Linked DNA regions of Homo sapiens: regions 2 and 3 are each linked to region 1. The links come from fine-mapping of genetic effects on gene expression. A gene starts in region 1. Each other region holds a variant in brackets. All regions are shown on one strand. Distances are from middle to middle. Region 1 holds the start of SMURF2 (SMAD specific E3 ubiquitin protein ligase 2). Region 2 overlaps SMURF2 (SMAD specific E3 ubiquitin protein ligase 2). Region 3 has its middle 10 kb from the start of MIR4315-2.

What was found. PIP is the estimated chance that this variant, and not a neighbour inherited with it, causes the effect.
Region 2: its variant is fine-mapped to the expression of SMURF2 in whole blood (TOPMed, PIP above 0.99).
Region 3: its variant is fine-mapped to the expression of SMURF2 in whole blood (TOPMed, PIP above 0.99).

The regions. Positions count from the first base shown.
Region 1 is chr17:64,659,900-64,664,008 of GRCh38, forward strand. It overlaps SMURF2 (SMAD specific E3 ubiquitin protein ligase 2), which reads right to left and starts at 2,408. Exons shown (of 19, transcript NM_022739.4): 1 at 1,930-2,408. The coding sequence starts at 1,981. RefSeq lists silencers at 1,902-2,101, 2,152-2,551 and an enhancer at 2,702-3,260.
Region 2 is chr17:64,568,320-64,572,449 of GRCh38, forward strand. It overlaps SMURF2 (SMAD specific E3 ubiquitin protein ligase 2), which reads right to left. Exons shown (of 19, transcript NM_022739.4): 10 at 3,479-3,637. Among named protein-coding and RNA genes, the nearest start is that of CEP95, 63 kb to the left of the region's middle. The variant C/T (reference allele first, on the strand shown) is at 2,235.
Region 3 is chr17:64,809,954-64,814,083 of GRCh38, forward strand. It overlaps the pseudogene PLEKHM1P1. Among named protein-coding and RNA genes, the nearest start is that of MIR4315-2, 10 kb to the right of the region's middle. The variant A/G (reference allele first, on the strand shown) is at 1,899.

The DNA.
Region 1 (4,109 bases):
AGACAAATAGTTGTAAGAAACTCAGAGTACCTCAAACTGTTTTTACTATTAAGAGGACACAGGGTATTTAAAATTCCTCAGAAAAACCTGAAACAAAATCACTATAAATGTAGTTCAATATTCCCCCTTCCCCTAAAATATAAGCATAATCTTTCCTCTTAATAAACTTTAATTATAAATTCTTATAATGTATCATAGGCAGTACGGAAACCACAGATAAACACTTTAAGATCTATTAAGTCATACTAAAAACCTCAACTAACCTTATCTGCAGAAAATCAAAAACCCAATTTTTTCCCTCATTTTCTCTACATAGCCCAGAGGAGGGTAAATGGAAACAGCCTATTTCTGATGCTTTCTGCACACCTGGGATCACATGTTCTTTCCACGATCACTGACTACAGACAGCAACAGCAACAGATAAACTCTAAAGCAACAAAGATCCCCTATAAAGGTTTCCACTGACTCCTCCCAATGTAAGGACACTGAATGAGGGGGGAGGGGGTGGAATACAAGTATCCTCCAATCCAGGTTTTCCATTAAGAATCACTCAGTTAATGATTCCCTGCAATTTTCCCTAGGGAAAGGAAAACTGCCATGAAAGTAATATATTATTTAAATTGCAGCCAACATACATTCAAGCTAAATTCTCAAATACCAAATTCACTGCAAGTTTTCATCCAGCAAGTTCAGCCAGTGGACTGGGATGTGACACACAGGCATTTAACTACAAAATTAGTCCAAATAAATCTCAAAGTCTAGTGTGGGCAAACATAATTACAGTTTATCCGTACACGTGCACGCACACACAAATCCTCTACGGAAAATTATCTTTCTCACCACTCACCCGAATACAAACGTGGACAATTTATCAGGGGTAAATGGTGAAGGTAGGATAACGCCGTGATTCCAATTCCTTTACAAACCAAATAAAAGTTCTCCTAAAACGGGGGTGGCATGTCCATGTAAGAATACCAAAAATGGCACTGTAAGCAAAACGTACCTGTAATGTTAAAGATTTCATGCACCTGGAATCATAAACACTTTGTAAGTGTAGTCTTCTATCTGGCAACCCCTCCGGACATTCTTTTCCATTTCGAAAAAGGAATGGGGAGGGTGGGGAGAGTAACAGAAAGTTTGCTCGAAAGTTTGTATGAGCACATACTTAGCAATGCACCCCCCCCAAAAAAGTGTGTTTTTAAAGCAGGTCTGGCGTTAGAAGTTAGACACAAGTTCTGCGGCCTAAAAGGAACAACCCCAAACATGCCACCCTACAATCAGACACTTCCAAAACACAGTGTACAATGAGCCCAAGCCGTCGGATCAGACAGGCACACCGGAAAAGTCAACCTGTCTCCTCACCTCAGAGACATGAGTTTAAGGTGTGTGGCCCGGGCAGCGGTGGCCGGCGGCGGGGAGTAAAGGTTTTTCATGCGGGCATAACTGGGTGTGTGCAAGGTAACAACCCGGGAACACACACGCACACCCTCCCGTTAAGCGCTCCATCTTTAAGGAGTGTTTACTGCGCGCAGTCAGCAACCGGATTCAATAATCCTCGCCACGGGAGCTCTTCATCCCCTTCACGATCTCACCTGGGCGGTAGCCCAGGGGCTGTTCCCCGAGCCCCGGGAGGCAGCGTCTGGCTCCTTGACCAAGACTTTCCGACCTGAAATCCGCCTGCGATGCGAACCGGTGTATTCTCCCCTCCACAAAACACCACCCCCCGCCCCGAGTCATCCTCGGCTTTTTAAACAATGTCCAAACCAGAGCAAGTGGTTTTCCAATTACTCTCCCTGAACTAGGCCTTCCCATTCCTCCGACCCCCAACTCATCATTGATCGCGACCCTGGCCCTTCCCAAGGCCACAGGCACCCCCCGCCAGCTCGCCCACCCCGCGGCTGCCCAGCCCGGCCCGCCGCCCCCCCTCACCTGTCAGGCGCAGCTTGACGGGCCCGTTCCTCCGGCCTCCGGGGTTAGACATGTCCCCGGCGGCGGGGGCGGCGGGGGCGGCGGGCGGCACGGGGGCGACGGCGAGGCGCGGCGGAGTCACCACAGCGGCCGGGGCTGGGGCCCGAGCAGCCGGCGCCTCGGCCGCCACGGCCGGAGGGTCCCGGATGTGCCGAGAGTCGTCGCCATGAGCCGCGGAGGGAGCGGGACGCCGAGCTCCCCCCTCCTCCCACTTCTCCTTCCTCGGCCCGGGCCGCACAACAAAGCGGCAGCCGCGGCCGCCCGCGCCGCCTCCGCCCGCGCCCCCGCCGCCTCCTCGCGGCCGCCGAGGCCTTTCCCTCCTCTCGTCTCGGCGAGGCCCAGTAGCCGACGGGGCTGGTCGGCTGAAGCGGGCGGTGCTCGGGGGCGCCGGAGCAGAACTCTGGGCTCGGCCGCTTCCTCCTCCACCCGCCCTCTTGTCTGAGGGACCCGGGACCTGGGGCCGCCGCCGCCACTCGTCGGCTCCGGGGGGCGGGGAGGAGACGGGAGGCGGGGCCGGCGGGGCGGGGCGGGGCCGGGGCGGGGCCGGCGGGCGCGCGCAGGGTGCCCTGGCGGGCACCGGCAGTCAGGGAGGGTGTGAGCTGCCGCCGAGGGTCCCACGCGGAACGCTGGGAGGGAGCAGGCAGGGAGCAAAGCGGCGGCGGGCGCGGCAGCTCTGTGGCACCTGGAGGGGTTTACTGTCCGGGCCACTTAAGGGAGAACTTTTGTCCAAGCAGGGCCAACTGCATTTTATTAGACGCCCACTGCGTGCAGGGCGCTCCGAGAGGCTGGGGCGAGGAAGGTTAGAACCGAGTCCGCTGCCTGCCGGGAACTTGGCGTCTTTCGGGCGAGGGAAGAGAAAGCATTCCCACGCCGATGGTTCCAGCAAAACCCCAGGAATGCTCTGCTCCTGGTCTTGTAGTTGACACCTCCATCCGGGACTCACCTGGTGGAGGAGATCAGGTTACCTGCCGACTCCCGCTCTTTTCAGGTGCAGCCAAGGATGGGGAGATGATACGTCTTAAAGGATTAACAAGATAAACCTTGGAGAGTAATGTATGAAGAGTTGTTCATACGCTACTGTATTTCGTTATCTCAGGAGGAGAAAGAGAAAAGTTTTTAAAAAATGTGTACCTTATCCTTTGACATTGTAACTGTACTGCTAGAAATTTATTTTTTATTTTTTTGTTTTTAGACAGGGTCTCCCTCTGTCGCCCAGGCTGGAGTGCAGTGGTGCGAACACGGCTCACTGCAGTCTCAACTTCCGGGGCTCAGGTGATCCTCCCACCTGAGCCTCTGGAGTAGCTGAGACCACAGTGTGCACCACTACGCCCCACTAATTTTTGTATTTTTAGTAGAGACATGTTTAGTAGAGACGTTTAGGTTTTCCCATGTTGCCCAGGCTGGTCACGAACTCCTGACCTCAAGCGATCAGCCCGCCTCGGCCTCCCAAAGTGCTGGGATTACAGACCTGAGCCACCGCACCGGCCCTATTCTTGACAAATAATCGTACAGAAGATGTTCTTTGCTATATTCCATTAATAACAAAAGGGGAATGAGGGAATAGCATAATAGTCCAGGAACCGCATGGTTTTTTATGCAGCCATGTAACTATTTTTATGAAGATCATATAATATGGAAGAATGTATATGTAATGCAAAGTTTAAAAACAGAATAGAAGTTGTATGCATATACATGCGAAAGTATCTAGCACAATGTAAACTACTAAGGACAATAGCGTGGGGGATTTTTTATGTGATTCGTTAGTTTTGCTTTAGGCTATTATAACATTAATGCAATTTTAAATGTTTTGGATTAATATATTTTAATCCTTATTCCATGCCAGTCATTTCTTTTAATACATCAGTGAACTCACTTCTCCAGATAGTTACCTGCGAGAACATTTCATCAGTTTGGATACAGCCCTACAATTAAAAGTAATCCAAAAAAGTATATGAAGTTCTAGACATCACACTAAAAATACCACAGATAGGCCGGGCACAGTGGCTCACGCCTGTAATTCCAACACTTTGGGAGGCCGAGGTGGGCGGATCATTTGAGGTCAGGAGTTTGAGACCAGCCTGGCCAACATGGTGAAACCCCGTCTGTACTAAAAAAAAATACAAAAAAATTAGCCGGGCCTG
Region 2 (4,130 bases), 92 kb before region 1:
GCTTGTTTTGGGCCACACTGAAAGCCGTCCTGGGCCCAGCCTAAGGGCCGTGAGTTGGACAAGCTTGACCTAAAGGGATGATCCTGGAGGCAGGAGGTAAATAAAGCACAACCACCTCTTGGAGGCTTCCTGGGCCTCTCAGAGAGCCATACTGGCTCTTGATTACCATTGTACATTTGTCAAGTACTTTGGGTATGTTACATACTAAAGCAGCAAAAATAAATGGGATACACGTCTTCTTAAGTAATTCAAAGTCTAGTAGGGGAAGCAGAAAGGTAACAAACAATTAAGATACAAAAGTAAAACAAAAGCCCTCTGTAGAGTGCTCCAACATCTTTTATTCCTTATCATCTCCCCAAATTCCAATTTGCTGCCCCTATATGCCCTTTAAAAAAACCCAGGCCGGGCACAACGGCTCACACCTGTAATCCCAGCACTTTGGGAGGCTGAGGCAGGAGGATCACTTGAGGCCAAGAGTTGGAGACCAGCCTGGCTAACACGGTGAAACTTCGTCTCTACTAAAAATACAAAAATTAGCTGGGCGTGGTGGTGCGCGCCTGTAGTCCCAGCTACTCAGGAGGCTGAGGCAGGAGAATCGCTTGAACCCAAGAGGCAGAGGTTGCAGTGAGCTGAGATAGCACCACTGCACTCCAGCCTGGGCAACAAAGCAAGACTCCATCTCAAAAAAAATTCCAGAACTAGGCGTGGTGGCTCACACCTGTAATCCCAGCACTTTGGGAGGCCGAGGCGGGCAGATCACCTGAGGTGTCAAGAGCTCGAGACCAGTCTGGGCAACGCGGTGAAACCCCATCTCTACTAAAAATACAAAAATTAGCTCGGCGTGGTGGCAAGCACCTATAATCCCAGCTAACTTGGAAGGCTGAGGCAGGAGAATTGCTTGAACCCGGGATGTGGAGGTTGCAGTGAGCTGAGATCACGCCATTGTACTCCAGCCTGGGTGACAACAGGGAAACTCCATCTAAAAAAAAAAAAATCCATACACAAAAGTAAAGTCCACATGGATTAAAGACTTTACAGTAAAAGACAAAACTATAAATGTATTAAAAACATTTACTTGTAGTGTGAATTTTAGAAGATAAAGATTACATTAGAAAAATAGGCAAAAAAGATATAAATTAACAAAAAAAGTTGATGCAGCTGGTCAATAGGCCAAAAAAAAGCTGTTCAAGCTCAATAGACAATGGCAAAAAATTGTGAACAGGACCTTCACAAAAACAGGAAATCCAAATAGTCAATAAACCTATAAAAAGGTGCTCAACCTCATCAGTAATTAGGAAAATTCAAGTTAAAGTTACAATGGGAAACCATTAAACATCATCAGAACAGCAAAAATTTTGAAGTCCAACAACAGCAAGTACTGGCAAGCTTCTGCAGCAACAGGAACTCATATATTGCCGGTAAAAGACTAAACTGGCATAGCCACTTTAGAAAAGTTACCTTTATACATTAAAGTTGAAGATAGAAATATTCTACGACATAGCAATTCCACAACCAGGCAAGCGCCCTAGAGCAGTGTTACTCAAAGGGTAGACTGCAGATGACACTTATTTTGCTATCTAGGCTATAAAGACCCTAATGCACAGAAACAGTCCATACTTCTCTGTTTCTTCAGATACTTTTACATTAGGGCTTTCAAATACTTGCGACCTTCATTTGTAAGCAAGGTTTTAGAATCTTCTATCTACAATAAAGTAAGATCTGCTGACATAATGAGACTGCCAGGATAATTATACATATTTCGAAGAAGGAACCAAAGATACACATTTTCAATGTTTTCTCCTATTATCCTAAAAAACTGGTAGCCAGTTCTCATTTAAATTTTTTGCTTTATTAACCTAACTCCAAAAATTAATGAAACAAGGACATTTTCAGAAGTCATTTTAAAGTATATTATTATTTTTGTTGTGTTTTTAACATTTTAACATACATAAGAACTTTACAACAAATGAATAAGACAGAGCAGGTAATGTCACCATTCATTTAGAGAAGCTAAAATGAATTATTCAGGGGTCAGAGTGAACCTTGCTCTCCAAGTTCTTAGCCTAAAATCCTTGTTGCTATACCACTCTCAGTGTTTTTGCCAGAAGTGTTGAAAAAGACACTTTGCTACTTAGCTTAGTAATGAAGTTTTCCTGTTCTCTCTTTTCCTCCTCCTGCCCCCATTCTTCAGAAGGCAATGCTAATAAGTAACAGAGTTAGAAGAAATGAGGCAG[C/T]TAGAGAGAAAAGAAAAGCAAAGGATGCAAATAATATACACACAATACTCAGTATAGTGCCTCACAGGCAGCTGAAGCCAGAGCATCCTGGTTTCACTCCAGACTTCACCACTGGCAACGTATGGAAAGTCATGTAACCTCTATACCTCAGTTTCCTCATCTGTAAAAATGGCAGTAGCTAACTCACAGAGTTTTTCTGAGGATGAAATTACGAACTTGGGGTGTTTTTGTTTGTTTGCTTTTTAAAGACAAGAGTCTCACTCTGTTGCCCAAGCTAGAATGAGTGGCGCGATCACAGCTCACTGCAGCCACGACCTCCTGAGCTCAAGAGATCCTCCCACCTCGGTGTCCTGAGTAGCTGGGACCACAGGTGCGCACCACCATGACCAGCTAATTTTAAAAAAATTTTTTGAAGAGAATAGGACTCACATGTTGGCCAGGTTGGTCTTGAACTCCTAGGCTCAAGTGATTCTCCAACCTCAGCCTCCCAAAGTGCTGGGATTACAGCATGAGCCACATGCCTGGCCTTACCAACATATGTAAAGTATAAAGAACAATGCTTGTCACACAGTAAGTGCTACTAAGGTGTTAGCCATTAATATAAATTATTAATAATTTTGTATTACAATGGCAACACAAAATTAGCCTGTTCAACCCCTACTTCTCCTGTCAAGATATTGCCTCTGTAAAAGGCCATCTTGAGCACCTCTAATAACCCTTTTCCTAACATTCCAAGACAGGTTCCTACCTAAAAGCATAGTAGGTTTAAAATACTCATATCAGAGTAAACCTTGTCACACTCTTACATAAATTTTGCTCAATAAAAGTAAATTATAACTGATGAAAGTAGATGTTCTTTCATTTTTTAAGAGACAGGGTCTCCATCTGTCACCCAGGCTGGAGTTGGGGTGGTGTGATCATAGTCCACTGCAGCCTCAAACTCCTGGGCTCAGGCGATTCTCCTGCCTCAGTTTCCCAAGTAGCTAGGACTGCAGGCATACACCACCACACCCAGCTAATTTTTTAATTTAAACAACTTTTTTTTTGTAGAGATGAGGTCTCACTATATTGACCAGGCTAGTCTCAAACCCCTGGCCTCAAGTGATCCTGCTGCCACGGCCTCCCAAAGCACTGGGATTAAAGGCGTGAGCCACTGTATCGAGACTCACATTTATTATTAAAAGCATCTATGCGTTTCATCATGTTTAACTCCCATTTTAACATGTATTGTTTCAAAAACTTACTTTAAAACTAAATGCAAGTTAGCAGACAGCCGAGGATCTGTAAATTGTGTTGTTCTGTTGTTATGGTCAACGAAATAAACTCTGCCTGTTGCCGTATTACGGATCTCCCATCCAGGAGGCAATGGACCAAGCTCTTCACAATTGATGTTGCTAAGATCCCTGCAAAAACAAATATAAAATAAAAAATACCTCATTGCTCGCCCTGCTGAACCAAGCAAGTGTAAATGACACAGAACAATTCCACAAAGTGTGAGAAAATGTATTGTTTCAGAAACTTGAGATGTTCAGCTGGAATCTTTAATTCCCAATGGTTTAACAAACTTTCATCTTCAAAGCCCAATCCATAAATGGCTCAGAAAAACTTATCACATAGCCTACATTTTTTAGTAATTTCCTAGGCTTTAATGTAATACAGATTTAAATTAATATAAAATCAATCCCAATATTTGCCAACATAAACTGTATTTCAACACGTGTTTGACAGGAAGTAATTTTACAAGTGTCAGTGACATAAAGAATTAAATGCTTTCTAAAATGTCCCTTCATTTCTTTACTATACCATAAAATTTGCATAAAATGTCCATTCCATAATTTTAAGCTCGCCAACAAAGCAAAACTGGAAATGTTACTGAAATTATGATCCTGAAAATAA
Region 3 (4,130 bases), 150 kb after region 1:
TGAGGCTGTGTGCCCCTGGCCCCAGGCGGGTGGGGAGCAGAGAGAGGGTGTGAGAGAGAGTGCACGCATGAACACCACTGTTTCTCTCTTCTCTCCTTTTTTTCTTTTAGAGATGGAGTCTTACTCTGTTGCCCAGGCTGGATCACAGTGGTGTGATCTCAGCTCACTGCAACATTTGCCTCCCAGTTTCAAGTGATTCTCCTGCCTCAGCCTCCTGAGTAGCTGGGATAACAGGCTCACGCCATCATGCCCGGCTAATTTTTGTATTTTTAGTACAGACGGGGTTTCACCATATTGTTCAGGCTGGTCTCAAACTCCCGACTTCAGGTGATCCACCTGCCTCAGCCTCCCAAAGTGCTGGGATTACAGGCGTGAGCCACCGCACCTGGACCCCTTCTCTCCTTTTTTCCCACCACCTTCCGACAACCTGCTCACTCAGGGTCCATGTCTGGCCAGCACCCTGCCCTTTAACAGTGGAGAGAAACCATCACCGACTAAGGATCTATACCAGAGCTGCAACTGCCACCAGGGACCCAAGACAGAGAAATGCCACCTTGCGTTACTAAAGGGCTCATGACACCATATACAACAGCTGAATCCCCAAGAGGAATGTGGCTGAGGAGTGAGACGAAGGTCTCTGGGACACTTTCAGAAGGATGAGACTTTGTCCAGCCAGTCCTCATTATGCCAGGCAAAGGAACTGCCTGTACTCATAACTGTGGAAGGGGAACCACATACCATGGGCAGGTGGTCCATGGGGGCAGTGATTAAGAGCAAGTCCTAGAACTCACACTGCCTTTTGGGAGTTAAACTGAAACCAACTCACAACCCCCAGATCCCAGACATGCGTCACCCTTGAGAGGCCCCTATTCCCTGCACCTCTCCTTCCCAGTGCTTAGCACAAGTGTAATTATGATGTGGATAATCATTTGTCTAATTTAATGTCTGTCCCCAAAGAGCCTTTGTCTGTCCTGTTGTATCACTCTACCCCTAGGACCTAACATGGTGCTTGGCTTATAGTAGGTGCTTTGGGTTCAATGAATTAAAAATAAATGTTTTTAAAAGAAAGACTGAATGGGCCTCTACACTATAAAACTTGACAGTGACCCCAACATCTCCCCCAAAATAACATCAAATAAAAAGCACGTGGCTAACTGATAGAAGTATAGAAAGATGAGGACCACAGGGGCAGATATGCAGGGCACAGCCTGGCACTGTCCACAGGCCAGGAGCCCAGCAGGCCCACATGAGCTGGCAGGCTATTCAGTGGCACCTGGTGACTACCTACTGAATAAGCAGTGAATGAATCCACAACTTCCCTGTGAGACAGACACAGGACGGGGGCAGGATCCGAGATTCTCACATCGGACTCAGCACCAAGCGCTTAGATGTCACATTCGCTAAGCAACCTTCCAGCAATCAGAGTCCCCTGTAGCTGGCACAGAGGCAGAGCCTGCCATGATCACACCAACCTGACCACCCTGTCCACTCGATGGTACACTTCGCTGACCCACTTTGGCCTCCCAAATTGCTAGGATTAGAGGCGTGAGCTATCACGCCTCGCCTGAACGTCCATAATCTTAAGTTTCACATTTGTCTCCTTCCTTCAAGTCCCCTTGACTTATCTTTGTTATTTTATATTAAAGACATTGGGATGGTCATGATTTATTCACACATCTTGTATGATTCTGGGCCAGGTACTTGCTGGAGATACCAAGAAAAAGAACCATTCCAAACAGCGTTATAGCTAGGATGGGGGAACAAAATAAACTTAGGAATTGGCATCTCAAGAGTCTCTTGGGAGTTCAAGAACTATTCATCCATGCCTACTTTCTCCCAGGTACAGTGCTTGGTGCTGACAATACAGAAGTGAACAGGCCTGGTGCTCTGTATCATAG[A/G]GCTAATATTCTAGTAAGGAAGACAGAAAATAAACAAGGAGACAAAGAGATAATATACTGTAATTGCACATAGTGATGAGTGTTATAAGCGAAGTCAAGCAGATGAATGGGACAGAGAGTCACTGGGGATGGTGCTTTTGAGCTACGGGGGTCCGGTCAGGGAAGGCTGAGACAACAATGAAGTGAGTCGGGAAAGAAGGAACAGCAAATGTAAAACCCTGAAGCTGGGCCGGGCACGGTGGCTCATGCCTGTAATCCCAGCACTTTGGGAGGCCAAAGTGGGCAGATCACTTGAGGCCAGGAGTTTGAGACCAGCCTGGTCAACATGGTGAAACCCCATAATTTTGTAAAAATACAAAAATTAGCTGGGCATGGTGGTAGGCATCTGTAATCCCAGCTACTTGGGAGGCTGAGGCATAAGAATAAGTTGAACTTAGGAGGCGGAGGTTTCAGTGAGCTGAGATTGCACCACTGTACTTCAGCCTGGGTGACAGAGTGAGACTCTGCCTCAAAAAAAAATTTTTTTTTCAAAGAAGCCTGATGTTGGAAGGAGTTCGCTTGGACTACAGAGCTGCAAGGAGGCCGGTGGGTCAGAGCTTAGTGAGCAAAGATGCTATTCTGTCCCACCAGCTTTGAGGCCCTGGCAAGATAAGATGCCTGAGCCTGCAAAGCAGAAGCTAGACCATGGGCAGGAGTGAACTCAACATGCTTAGTGCCACTCTGGAGTCCTGTGGGGCGCACAGCCTGCATCCCCAGCAGACGTCACTCTGCCTCCAGCTTGAGGAAGGGGCTGCAGAGCTTTCCTCTTCAGCCTTCAGCTTGAGTTGGCAGGTGCACAGTCACAACCTTCAGGGTCCTAGAGCATTCATTTTCAGGAAGTAAATCTTCAGGATGTACTGAAGCATCTTCAGGATAGCAAATTCGAAGACTCTGACCCACACTGACGGTTTTGTGATTTACATGGTCATATTCAAGAAACAGAGCGAGGCCAATCAGATATCCATATGGAAAAATATGAGGTTTGACTTCTAACACCACACATAAAAATTAATCCCAGAAAGATCATAAACCTAATTGTGAAAGATAAATCACTAAAGCTTCTAGAAGATAATATAGGCAAATACCTTCAGATCCTTGGGGGGAGATGAGTATCTCTTAAATGGGACAAAAACCAAGCAAACCATAAACAAAAAGACTGATAAACTGCACATCATTAAAAGAACCTCTGTTCAATAAAAATACCATTAGGAGGTTTAAAAGTCAAGCCCTATAGACTAGAAAAAGATACTTGATAAATATAGTTTTTGTCCAATGAAAGACTTATATCTGTAATATATAAAGAGTTCCTACAAATCAACACATACACATACAACTCAATTTAAGACCAGAATGACAACTTGGACAGACATTCTATAAAAGAGGATTGACTGGCCAATAAGCAAATGAAAAGGTATCATCATTTAGTCATCAAGGATATGAAAATTAAAACCACTACACATCTACCAGAGTGGCTAAAATTAAAAAGATTGGTAACACCATTGGCCAGGATAAAGAGCAACTAGAATGCTCATTTGTTGCCAATATGAGTATAAATTAGCACAAACACTTTAGAAAACTGTTTGGTGGTGGTATCTATTAAAGCTAAACATAAGCCACCCAAGGACCTAGCAATTCCATTCCCAGGTATATATACCCACAGAAATAAGCACCGAGTTTCTCCAAAAGCATGTATGAGAATGTTCACTACAGCTTTCTTCATAATAGTCAAAACCTGGAAACAACCCAAATGTCCATTAACGGGAGAATGGATAATAGGTTGCGATATATTTTTACAATGGAATACTGCAGAACAATGGAAAAGAATTAACTACAGCCTCATGCTATATGTACAGCCACACACCACCATGCCCAGCTAATTTTTGTATTTTTTGTACAGATGGGGTCTCACTTTGTTACCCAGGTTGGTCTCCAACTCCTGGGCTCAAGCAATCCTCCCTCTTGGTCTCCCAAAGCGCTGGGGTTACAGGTGTGAGCCACCATGCCCAGCCCCCAAATATTTTCATTTTAACTTGTAATCCATAAAAATGAGATTTTCTATTCTTTTATCATACTAAGTTATTGAAATCCAGCGCTTATTTCACATGGCACATCTCCATTTGGACTTGCCACATTTTAAGTGTACAACAGCCACACGTGGCTTGTAGCTGCCATATTGGACAGCACGGCTCTAAA